3 linked regions of the Homo sapiens genome follow. The protein of the gene in region 3 purifies or fractionates together with the protein of the main gene of each other region. This does not show direct contact. Each region holds a gene or a part of one and is shown on either strand. Other genes may lie near its edges. The genes, in order: BCKDHA, BCKDHB and PPM1K.

Region 1 (3,654 bases), on a different chromosome or scaffold from region 3:
GAACTCCTGGCTTCGAGTGAACTGCCTGCCCTGGCCTCCCAAAGTATTGAGATTATAAGCATAAGCCACTGTGCCCGGCCAAAATTTTATTTATTTATTTATTTTTTTGAGATGTAGTCTTGCTCTGTCACCCAGGCTGGAGTGCAGTGGCACAATCTCGGCTCACTGCAAGCTCTGCCTCCCAGGTTGACGCCATTCTCCTGCCTCAGCCTCCCGAGTAGCTGGGACTACAGGCGCCCGCCACCACGCCCGGCTAATTTTTTGTATTTTTAGTAGAGATAGGGTTTCACCTTATTAGCCAGGATGGTCTCGATCTCCCGACCTCATGATCCGCCCGCCTCGGTCTCCCAAAGTGCTGGGATTACAGGCGTGAGCCACCACGCCCAGCCTAATTTTATTTATTAATTTATTTGAGATGGAGTCTCACTCTGTCACCCAGGCTGGAGTGCAGTGGTGCGATCTTGGCTCACTGCAACCTCCACCTCCCAGGTTCAAGCGATTCTCCTGCCTCAGCCTCCTGAGTAGCTGGGACTATAGGTGCGTGCCACCACGCCTGGCTAATTTTTGTATTTTTAGTAGAGATGGGGTTTCACCATCGTGATCAGCCTGACAGGCTGGTCATGAACTCCTGACCTTAAGTGATTCACCTGCCTCAGCCTCCCAAATCTGCTGGGATTACAGGCATGAGCCACCGCACCCAGCCATATTATTTCTGTATTTTCATTTGGCTTACCTGTCAACTTGACACTTTTTTGTTTTTTTAGGCTAGTCAGGTGAAGCAATGTGAGTAAGATCACCTGTCTTGATTATAACTTGTGTGTTCAGTGTTTGTCATTCATCCCTCCCTGTCTCTAGCCTTCAGTTCAGGGCATGATTTGGAGCAAATGTTCAGTATCTGTTTAACAAGAACAATCATGAGAAATACTTACTCACTACTTGTGTTTATGAAACATTATGTGCCAGGCACTGGGCTGAGCAATCCACACAGGTCAACTCGGTTAATCCTCATGACAACCCCTGAGATAAGTACTTATACCACCCTCGGTGTACACAGGAGGAAACTGAGGCTCAGGGAGTTTTTCTTTAAAAATTTTTTCTTTTTTTTTTCCTTGAGACAGGTCTTACTTTGTCACCCAGGCTGGAGTGCAGTGGTGTGATCTTGGCTCACTGCAGCCTCTTGGGCTCCAGCGATCCTCCCACCTCAGCCCCTCAAGTAGTTGGGGAGTACAGGTGTGCACCACCATGCCCAGCTAATTTTTTGTAGGGATGGGGTCTTGCCATGTTATCCAGGCTGGTCTTGAACTCCTGGGCTCAAGCGATCCTCCCTCCTTGGCCTCCCAAAGTGCTGGTATTACAAGTGTGAACCACCACACCTGGCCTTAAATTTTATTTATATATTTATTTTTGTAGAGACGAGGTCTCACTATGTTTCCCAGGCTGGCCTCGAACTCCTGGACTCAAGTGATCCTCTTGCCTCAGCCTCCAGAGTAGCTAGAATTACAGGCGTCTGCCACTGCACTTGGCTCAGGGAGTTTAAGTCACATAATCAGGCAGCGGTCTGCTCAGTTAGAGTCCATGCGCTTAGCCATGGTGCCTTCAAGTGACTCCACCAGGGTCACCCCAGTACTTCCTGGGCAGACCAGACCATCCAGAGCGGGCAGGTTGTGCTTTCCTGCATGGTGGGAGAGGACGTGGCATGAAGCTTTGTGTAAATCTGTGCAGCCTCTGCCATTGTAAATCACTGGCCACCGGGACAGACTCCCCCACCCCCTTCCAAAAACTAGAGGAACAGATGGGTGGAGTCGCATCCTTCCTCTGCAGGCATTTGGCCACCCACTCCCATTATGGAGCATTTCCTCAGGACCAGGCACAGCGTGGAGCCCTTTGCATAGCTCACTGAATTGGGGCAGCAACCCTGGGGCTGGGGACTACCATTATCTCCACCAGCCCAGCAAAGAGGGGAGGAGGGTACAGCCGAGACCCAGCTGCAGTATGTGGAGCACACTGGGGTGCCGTGAAGATAGCTGTCCAGCCTCTAGAGGCTGACAGTCCTGCCCTGACACAGTGGTTTGTTCTCAGACTCTGGCCTCCCCTCTTAGTGCCCGTCTGAAGACTTCAGCCTTCGGTCCTCTTCCATCAGCATGCCGTCTCCCCTGTGCCTCAGTCTCCCTCTCTGGAGTATCTGCTGGGGCCACAGTTTGGTTTTATTGTTCTTTGAGACAGGGTATCACTTTGTTGCCCAGGCTGGAGTGCAATGGTGCAGTCATGGCTCACTGCAGCCTTGACCTCCTGGGCTCAAGCCATCCTCTCACCTCAGCCTCCCGCAACTCCAGTATCTGGACTACATGTAAATGCCACCATTCCCAGCTAATTTTTTTTTTTTTTTTTAGATAGAGTCTCACTCTTGTCACCCAGGCTGGAGTGCAATGGTGCCATCTTGGCTCACTGCAACATCCGCCTCCCAGGTTCAAGCCATTCTCCTGCCTCAGCCTCCCAAGTAGCTGGGATTACAGGCACCTACCATCATGCACGGCTGTTTTTTGTATTTTTAGTAGAGACAGGGTTTCACTATGTTGGCCAGGCTGGTCTTGAACTCCTGACCTCAGGTGATCTGCCTGCCTCGGACTCCCAAAGTGCTGGGATTACAGGCGTGAGCCACCACGCCCAGCCTTCCTGGCTAATTTAAAAATTTTTCAGAGACGAGGGTTTTGCCTAGGCTGGACTCACTATGTTGCCTAGGCTGATCTCGAACCACTGGCCTTAAGTGATCCTCCCACCTCAGCCTCCCAAAGTACTGGGATTACAGGCATGAGCCGCTGCACATCGCCACAGTTTGATTTTAGTATCCACTTTAAGGTGCAGTTAGTTCTTCCCAGCTCCTCTTTTCCCTATCTCATACAGTGTAGTCACTTCCCTTTCTCCCACTTCTCACCTTCCTAGATTTTGTTTTTCTCTCTCTTACCAAGTTTTGAGTATGTAATACGTCCCAGATCGGTGCTGAACCCCTGGTGTGAGTTAACTTAGCAACTTTTCACGTGGTGTTCTGCAGCCTTCTTACAGATAAGGAAATTCAGAGAGGTGAAGTGTTTTTGCAGAGAGCCACACAATGAGCTAAGAAATTAGAACCCAGGGCAGTTGAACTCCAGAGCCAGGGAACTTAACAGCCCATTCATGCATTCACTCAGGAATTCCCTCTTGAGTGCCTGCTGTGAAGGCAACCTGGACGCTGTCTCTGCCTTCCTGGGATTGTGGTGTGTGTGGGAGACAGACACGAAACAAAGCAATCTTCTAGGTCAGTGTCTGGCTATGCTGGGTACTCAGAAGGGGGAAGCACTGTGCTGCAAGAGGCCGGCTGTTTCCTCCTCACAAGGGGAGGCCTGCAGTGACATTGCCAGGCCTGAATCTGCCCTGCCATTGGGAGTGTAATTTCCTCACGACTACAAATGCAAATAAATACACACACTGAACATGCTACCCCGCTAGAACTGTGGACAGCTTGTTCACTGCAGTTAAAGGAAGACGGAGGGACACATTTGAGCACGCATGTGTGAGATCCAGCTTGTGGCAAACCCTGCCATTCTTTAACATCTGTGGGAAGTGAAGCCACCATTACTGACCTCGGAGGAATCCCGGGAGTAGTGGGAAGAAAAGTTG
Region 2 (3,654 bases), on a different chromosome or scaffold from region 3:
AAACAGAAGCCCAGTTGCATGGGCCATGAATTAATTGTGATCTATTCATACAATGAAATGCTACTTATTAAACAATACTGTACACGCCTCAGATTTTTGGGTGTTCTTTTCCCCACAGCCAAGAAGCATTTATTGGCAGGCTGGCTCCAGAAACATAGTTGCAATATGCTAATACTATTCACAAAAAATTACCTTGATGAAGAGGGCCAAGCTACTTTCCTTAGTAACTAGAATACTTAGAAAAATAAGAATAACAAGAAAAATTATTATTACTTAGTAGTAATAATACTATCAATGAACAATGAATATTCGTATGATGTAATGACAATGTTCATTATTTAGTAGTAATGTTCTAATATTGTACAGTTGTAAGATATTATTGTAATAGAAATGAACAGTGAATATTCATCCAATATAATGACCATGTTCCTTACTAAGTAGAAATGTTCTAATATTGTACAAAATTGTAATATTATTGTAATAGAAATGAACAACAGATATTCATACAATGGACTACTACTCAGCAAAGAAAAGTGAATAAACTACTGATACAAGCAAAAACATGAATGAATCTCAAAAGCATTAGGTTGAGTAAAAGAAAGCAAACACAAAAGAACATATGCAGTGTGCATGGATTTATATGAAGCCCAAACACATGTACACCTAATCTGATGGCAATCAGAAAGTGGCTGTTTTTGGCATAGGGAGAATGGATCCATTGTGAAGAGTGAGGAAGAAGCTTCCAGGAGTGATTAAAATGCTTTAGACAGAAAAAAATCATTTGCTATTTAAAATTTCCATTACAGTGAAGAAATTAGCAGTCACAGATGTATGTTTATAAAATCAGGATTTTGAGCTAAAAAGAGGATGACCAAACACCTTAGTTTGCTTTACACAGTCATCCCAGCATAGACCTGACAGCACAGCATAATTGTTAACAGCACCTCCTTCACAGTCAAAGGTATCCTGATTTAAATGAAGGAAGACCTTTATGGTCACTTTAGTTAAAAGGAAACATATACTATTTAGTAAAATGAGCTCATTTACTTTTCTGTTCAATCCATATTTACTAAGCACCTACTATGTGGTTAAACATAGTCCCTTTATTGTTGCTACCACTTCAGATTTCCTCTTTGTTTCCACAATCAAAATATAAAATGGCTAGATGAATTTTTCCCAAACATAAAATTTACACCTGAGGACAAACTAAATACCAAAAAAATCAAGATTCTTTCTACAAGGAAAATATAAATCAACCATATAGAAAAAAAAGATATAACTTTTAGAGCTATAAAAAACAAAGTATATAAAGATATTCACAAATATAAAATAAAGAAAATCTTTACCTGCTGCCCTGTAAAGTATTTTAGGTTCAAAAAATATACAAGGATTTTTATCCTCTATGCATGACAAAAGAAGTCCTTTGGCCTGGAAAGGGCTTCTGGGTATAACCACCTGCAAAAACAGATTTTTTTAAGACAATTTTAGTAAAAATATATCCCAGTAAACTCGCTGCTAAGAAGGGCTGATATTTAAATAATCAATTGTTACTAATTAAAAATAGATATTGGCTATTTATTTTAAGCCTAATTATCACTTATTAAGTTTACATATTATATAAAAATAAAAATGCCTCTTATTCAACAGATATTTATCAGATGTCTACCATGTTCTGTTAACTAAGATACTACTCTTAAGAAGCTAAACTTGCCTATATAAAAAAAATAAAAAGAATATGCAAAGATCATTCATCAAAGCAAAAAACTGTAATATTGTTAATATCTACCTGTGTTTATCTATGAAGAAATCTCTTCTACTAATAATCTGTTTCTACTTTCAAAGTACATGCAACTCTCTTCTCCAGTTTTAACATGTCAAAATCTTCTTTTCCCATGAAAAAAAATATGGTCTTCATTTCATAAGTGAAAAATTAGTCCACTGAGTTTTACAGTCCAGGCACCATAGTGTCCAGTTATATAGCAAAGCAAAAACAAAAGTGTGGATAGTCCACACTTCCACTCACAGGAAAGGGCTCCAGGACCTTCTCGAGAATGAGGGTGATGACAAGGAAGATGATAATGACAGTAGGAAGTACACGTGTAAACTTGGCCAAGCACTCTGTGAATTAATTCATCTGTTCATAGCAACCCCACTAGGTAGCTATTATAATGTTCCTCATTTTAGAAATAGACACTGAGGTTTAGAGAGAACAAGTAGCTTGCCTAAGGTCACACGACTTGCTTGATCAAAGAGTCTCACCCAATTCCCACTGATACCAAAGCTCAAGCTCTTAACTTCTATCTAATGTTGACTTAAATCACAAACTTTGTCTAATTTTAAATGATTATAATTGTTTAAAGACAAATATTATATAGGAAGAGTTATTAAAATAAACCTGAACTTACCACAAAGACTTAAGATTCCCTGAGGCAAACTATATTTGGCTTTCAAAGCCATTTTTATGCCATTTTTATTGAAGGGTTTTATTTTAAAAATAAAAGAGCAGCAAAAATGTCACTATTTTCTGTATAAAAAATTTTATTTTCTGTTCTGGACCTCTGAACACATTAATAACCATATCACACAATGTCTTTATCTTATGTTCCTACTTTTTAAGTTCCCTTCATCTGCTTTCTTCATATTAGCCTTTTGTACTTTAAGTATATTTTCATTTCAGCTGAAAAAAAAAGGAAAAAGGAAGAGGAAGAAAGAAAATGAAGGAGGAAAAGAGAAGGCAGGGGACAGACAGAAAAGATCTGTTCTTAAAAACAATATAATGTTATAAATATTAAATGTGAATTAATGTTTAGCTCAAGCACAAAAATAACTTGCCTCGCACATGGCTTCTTTCCCAGTCTACAACTTCTAGCTCACATTCAAAAATCAGGCAACATCTACTCAACTAAGATAAGCTTATAACTTTGATCTGGTAGAAAAAACAAATAAGAAAAAAAGAATAAAACATAGACACATGCTCACAATCAATTCATGTGGTCAAAAAACAAATATACATCTCTGGATTCACACATCTATGGGTTTCTACAATGATCCCCTGAAAAGCTTATTCAGTAAACAGAAACAGAAAAGATAATACAAAAAATTAAGACATAAAAAACTCAAAATATTTTTACCATCAAAAGACCTAAGCTTTTGTGAAAGACAGGTTATAAAAAGGAGATGCTTCAAAATTAATTGGTTGAGCAAGTATTACCTAACTTTAAACAGAAAAAAAAAATCTAGGTAACAGTCTTCTCTTAGTCTTTTTAACAAGTAAGAAATACATTAAAAGCAAAAGTGTTATCCCTGTGACTTTGAGGTAAATACAGACTAAACAAAAGATTTATTAAAATCACCCCATCATCAGTTAAGTGAGAAAGACTTAAGTTAGAAAGAAATATAAAGCTTTGAAAGAGAGGGGAGGTAAACCAACTATGTTCTTGGTCTTATTCTTTGAAGTCTATAAAATTAATCAATGCCAGAGTTTATAAAACCAGTCCTCCTTCAAAAAGAACTTGCTGTAAAACTGGGCATTGGATAGCATACTTAAAAGAACTGCTAACCTCCCCTTCTTAAATACAGTTAAGTTCACATAAATTCCAAGAATCCTGTTTGTTTTCTTTCCTCTAGATAAGCATAGATATTAAATAGAATGAA
Region 3 (3,654 bases):
AAGTCATCTCAACTAATGGGACAAAGAGATGTGGGAACCTTCCCGTAGTCCAGGATAGGAACCGCTGGACTCCTTCACCTGGGACAAAATTAAGCAGATCTCTCTTTCCACTGAAGCCCCGCATATAGTGTCCACGGGCTCCAGGTCTAGAGCTGCTGACCAGGCACAGTTCTCTGCCACAAATAACACGCACAGAGGCAAATACGAATTTCACCCAGGAATTGTGCTCAAACATTACAAACCTGCAACACAGGGGAGAGCAGAGAAAGAGCTGCAAAATAAGGGAAGGGTTTTTTATTTTGGTGAAAATTTAACTAGCAAATTATATAATATTCCAGGAGATGCCAAATCAATTATTCCAAAACTCAGTTTGTTCCAGTTGATGGTATTTTGTAGTTGAGCCTATTTTTTCATCACAGGGTAACACTTCTTTCTTAATTTTGTGGTTTCTAAGGTTGAAAAAACTATATAAAAAAGTATCTGTACCAAGACACATAAATGGTGACACAGACCTACATTTAACACACTCACAAAAACACTCACGCATATACACATTCACTGAAATAATTGGTCTTAAACACAGTAAATCACTACCTTTACTGAGTTACAAAAAATGCACTGTAAATTTGTTTGGTAGCAATATCAGAATTGTCTCAAGAATAGAAAGGTAAATCTACAGTTACAGCATGGAAGAATTTGTATCTGACAAGCAGGATGTAAACTACAGTATACCACCAAATTACTGGGACTTAAATATATATCAAGAAGGAATCAAAGCACCCGCTATACAAGATACATAGAGTAATGCATTTGTTAATGGTGCTTAATGCAGAGACTTAGTACCTATAAGGCATTTTTGAGTAGAATGATTAATTTAAATTCATTGCTTAAATAAAGGCTAGCGAGACGCATGTTTATAATTTTGTATAATTCACAAAATGGGTATTTCTGCAGCTCTCTCTTTCCCCCAGTGTTGCAGGCCGACACATCAAAAGAAAAATGATCAAGATTGTGAATGCCAACATAAAGAGCAAAAGCTATACTTTTCAAAGTATAATGACCCCTAGTAATTACTCAATTGTGTAAATAATACTATGTATAAACCAATACAGTTTCAATATTTATTAAAAATGGGTGTTCTAGACTCATGACTCATGAACACCAAAATCAAAGTAATGAGCTGAAGCAGTAGCAGCACGGTAAGAACATCTCATCAATGCTCTCTTTTTTTTTCTTTTGGCTGTCCCGGCATAGGGGATTCAAAAATGCTGTGTTTACAGCCCTGGTTCTTTTGTAGTTTAATTCTTCCATAAAGAGGTCACAGGATATGAAGAACATAAAAGTTTCTGGTGAGACTCATAATGCCATCAATGTCCCCCACTCTGAATGTCTGAGCAAGTCTTCTCTTTTTGTTCCATTTGTCCCTTTCGGAGCTTTGTTGCTTTCAAAGTTTAAGCAATCTGGAAACACTCTGAAGAGCTTATAGGAAATATAGAATTATAACCTAATTTTCTACCATCTAGTTTGTTCTAAGTGGCTATCTCTTTATAAACAACGGACTGGTGGGATATCATCCGGATTTACTGGCTGCTTTTATTAATTGTAAAAGTAGACATTACTGGTATAAATTGAATAAAAAAATTAAAAGATGGTGATGAAATTTGCTACTGATAACTAAGGACAGGTTGAAAATGCATTAACAAAAAAGCAATAAAAATAGCTGACAATTTCTTAAGGGCAAGGGAATCTTGTTCTTGCCATTTCTTGATAAGTGGCATTTTGATTTTATTCTTTTCAAAATATCCCCAGCTACAACAGTAAATTATTTTATTTTATTTTCTACTCAAACAATAAGCTTTTATTATATTTTACAGATCAGTCATCCAGGACATGCTGCGTCTGTGGTTGGCATCGTCTCATTTCTGAAAGGACTGAATGCACATAAAAGTCTCTTGCCCACGCTGAACTCACACATGCCGGGCAGAAAAGAGCTCTCACTAAGTGTAACTTGAGTGTGAACTTGCTCAGGCAACAGCAATGCCATTCAACAGTAAATATTTTAAATGTTAGTAAGATAATTTGAAGTTCTTTATGTAGCTGTAACAGCTTTGGAACTGAAGTTGAGAGGAGATAAGAATGTTTTAATTTCACTTAAGAAAGTTAATATGGTATTGATACAGGAGCTAGAAATAAATTATGTAGGCACATAGTGAGGGTAAAGGAGTCCGTGGCAAGGCTTCCCTTTTAACAAAAAGCAGCCTCCAAACCATTTCTTTTCTAACAAAGAGCAACCTGAAAAATTGAGCTGCAAACATAAATAAGCAAGCTGGAAGCTTGCACAGGTGAATGCCAGCAGCTGTGCCAATAGAAAAGTACTACCTGGGCTGGGCACAATGGCTCACGCCTGTAATCCCAGCACTTTGGGAGGCCAAGGCGGACAGATCACCCAAGGTCGGGAGTTAGAGACCAGCCTGACCAACATGGCAAAACCCCGCCTCTACTAAAAATACAAAAATTAGGTAGGCATGGTGGCAGGCGCCTATAATCCCAGGTACTTGGGAGGCTGAGGCAGGGGAATCACTTGAACCTGGGAGGTGGAGGTTGCAGTGAGCTGAAATTGCACCATTGCACTCTAGCCTGGGAGACTAGAGCAAAACTGTCTCAAAAAAAAAAAAAAAGAAAAAGAAAAGGGCTACCTGGGGCCAAGCATGTTCAATATGTTCCATCTTCCCTTTTCTTTGTCACCATGTGTAAAGAAATGGGCAACATGGCGCTGGCCAGGTAGAGAACCCATCTGCATAATAAAAGATTAGGGTGGGGGTGGCCAGATTCTTGAATGCTCTGCAAATTGCACACCTAGGCCTAATCAGTTTTTCGTGTGCTATGCAAATGGCACATCTGGTCCAACCAATCTTTCATGCCCTATGTAAATCAGACACTGCCTCCTCAAGTTCATCCATAAAGCCTCCTGCACTTCACCATGGACTAGAAAGCTGTTTGGGACCCCTCTTTTTGCAGGAGAGAGCTTTTCTCTTTCTTTCACCTATTAAGTCTCCACTCCTAACCTCACTCCTTGTGTGTCCTCGTCCTTGATTTCCTTGGTATGAGACAATGAAACTCAAGTATTACGCCAGACGAGCAATGCTGCTTCAGTAGGACTGAGCGGCACGCCTCTCTTTTATACCTAAAATCTCACCATTAGTAATTCACTTCTATGGTTTAAGCCTTTTTCAGGTGTCTGCTAACTAAAATTCAAATCCACCCAGGAGTGACAGCTCATTAAAATGCAAACATTTTATAATAATTTGATTAAATCAGCTATATGATAATCAAAGAAAAAATTACAGTAACTTCAGTGAGAAAGAGTCAGCGTGGAGATCTCAGTTCAATCCAAATAATTATTGAGTACCTGCCAGGTTCTATGCAGGGTGCTGCACACTGGAGATTCAAAAATGAATAAGCCACAGTCCTTCACCTCACAGGAAGGGTTCAAGAAGAGGGGAAAGGGGTTAATACTAAAAGAGAAAAGATGAAAGAAACTGGAGAGGGTAAACTGCACTTACTACAAAATTTTGTTTCACTGGCACTGGTCCTATCTATATACATAGGCCGAAAAGAATATTATCCACTCTTATAATACTGATACTGCTTCAG

What was found.
Region 1: the proteins of PPM1K (region 3) and BCKDHA purify together in Homo sapiens (affinity purification with mass spectrometry; 6 studies listed by BioGRID and IntAct, with this or other methods). This does not show direct contact.
Region 2: the proteins of PPM1K (region 3) and BCKDHB purify together in Homo sapiens (affinity purification with mass spectrometry; 5 studies listed by BioGRID and IntAct, with this or other methods). This does not show direct contact.

The regions. Positions count from the first base shown.
Region 1 is NC_000019.10:41,404,200-41,407,853, forward strand, and holds part of BCKDHA (2-oxoisovalerate dehydrogenase subunit alpha, mitochondrial isoform 1 precursor), read left to right. Parts: intron 1-3,654. UniProt on the Homo sapiens protein: Together with BCKDHB forms the heterotetrameric E1 subunit of the mitochondrial branched-chain alpha-ketoacid dehydrogenase (BCKD) complex.
Region 2 is NC_000006.12:80,169,083-80,172,736, reverse strand, and holds part of BCKDHB (2-oxoisovalerate dehydrogenase subunit beta, mitochondrial isoform 1 precursor), read right to left. Parts: exon of another isoform or gene 2,521-3,654; intron 1,456-2,520; coding exon 1,347-1,455; intron 1-1,346. UniProt on the Homo sapiens protein: Together with BCKDHA forms the heterotetrameric E1 subunit of the mitochondrial branched-chain alpha-ketoacid dehydrogenase (BCKD) complex.
Region 3 is NC_000004.12:88,271,017-88,274,670, forward strand, and holds part of PPM1K (protein phosphatase Mn(2+)-dependent 1K), read right to left. Parts: intron 3,439-3,654; coding exon of another isoform or gene 3,410-3,438; intron 272-3,409; coding exon of another isoform or gene 79-271; intron 1-78. UniProt on the Homo sapiens protein: Serine/threonine-protein phosphatase component of macronutrients metabolism.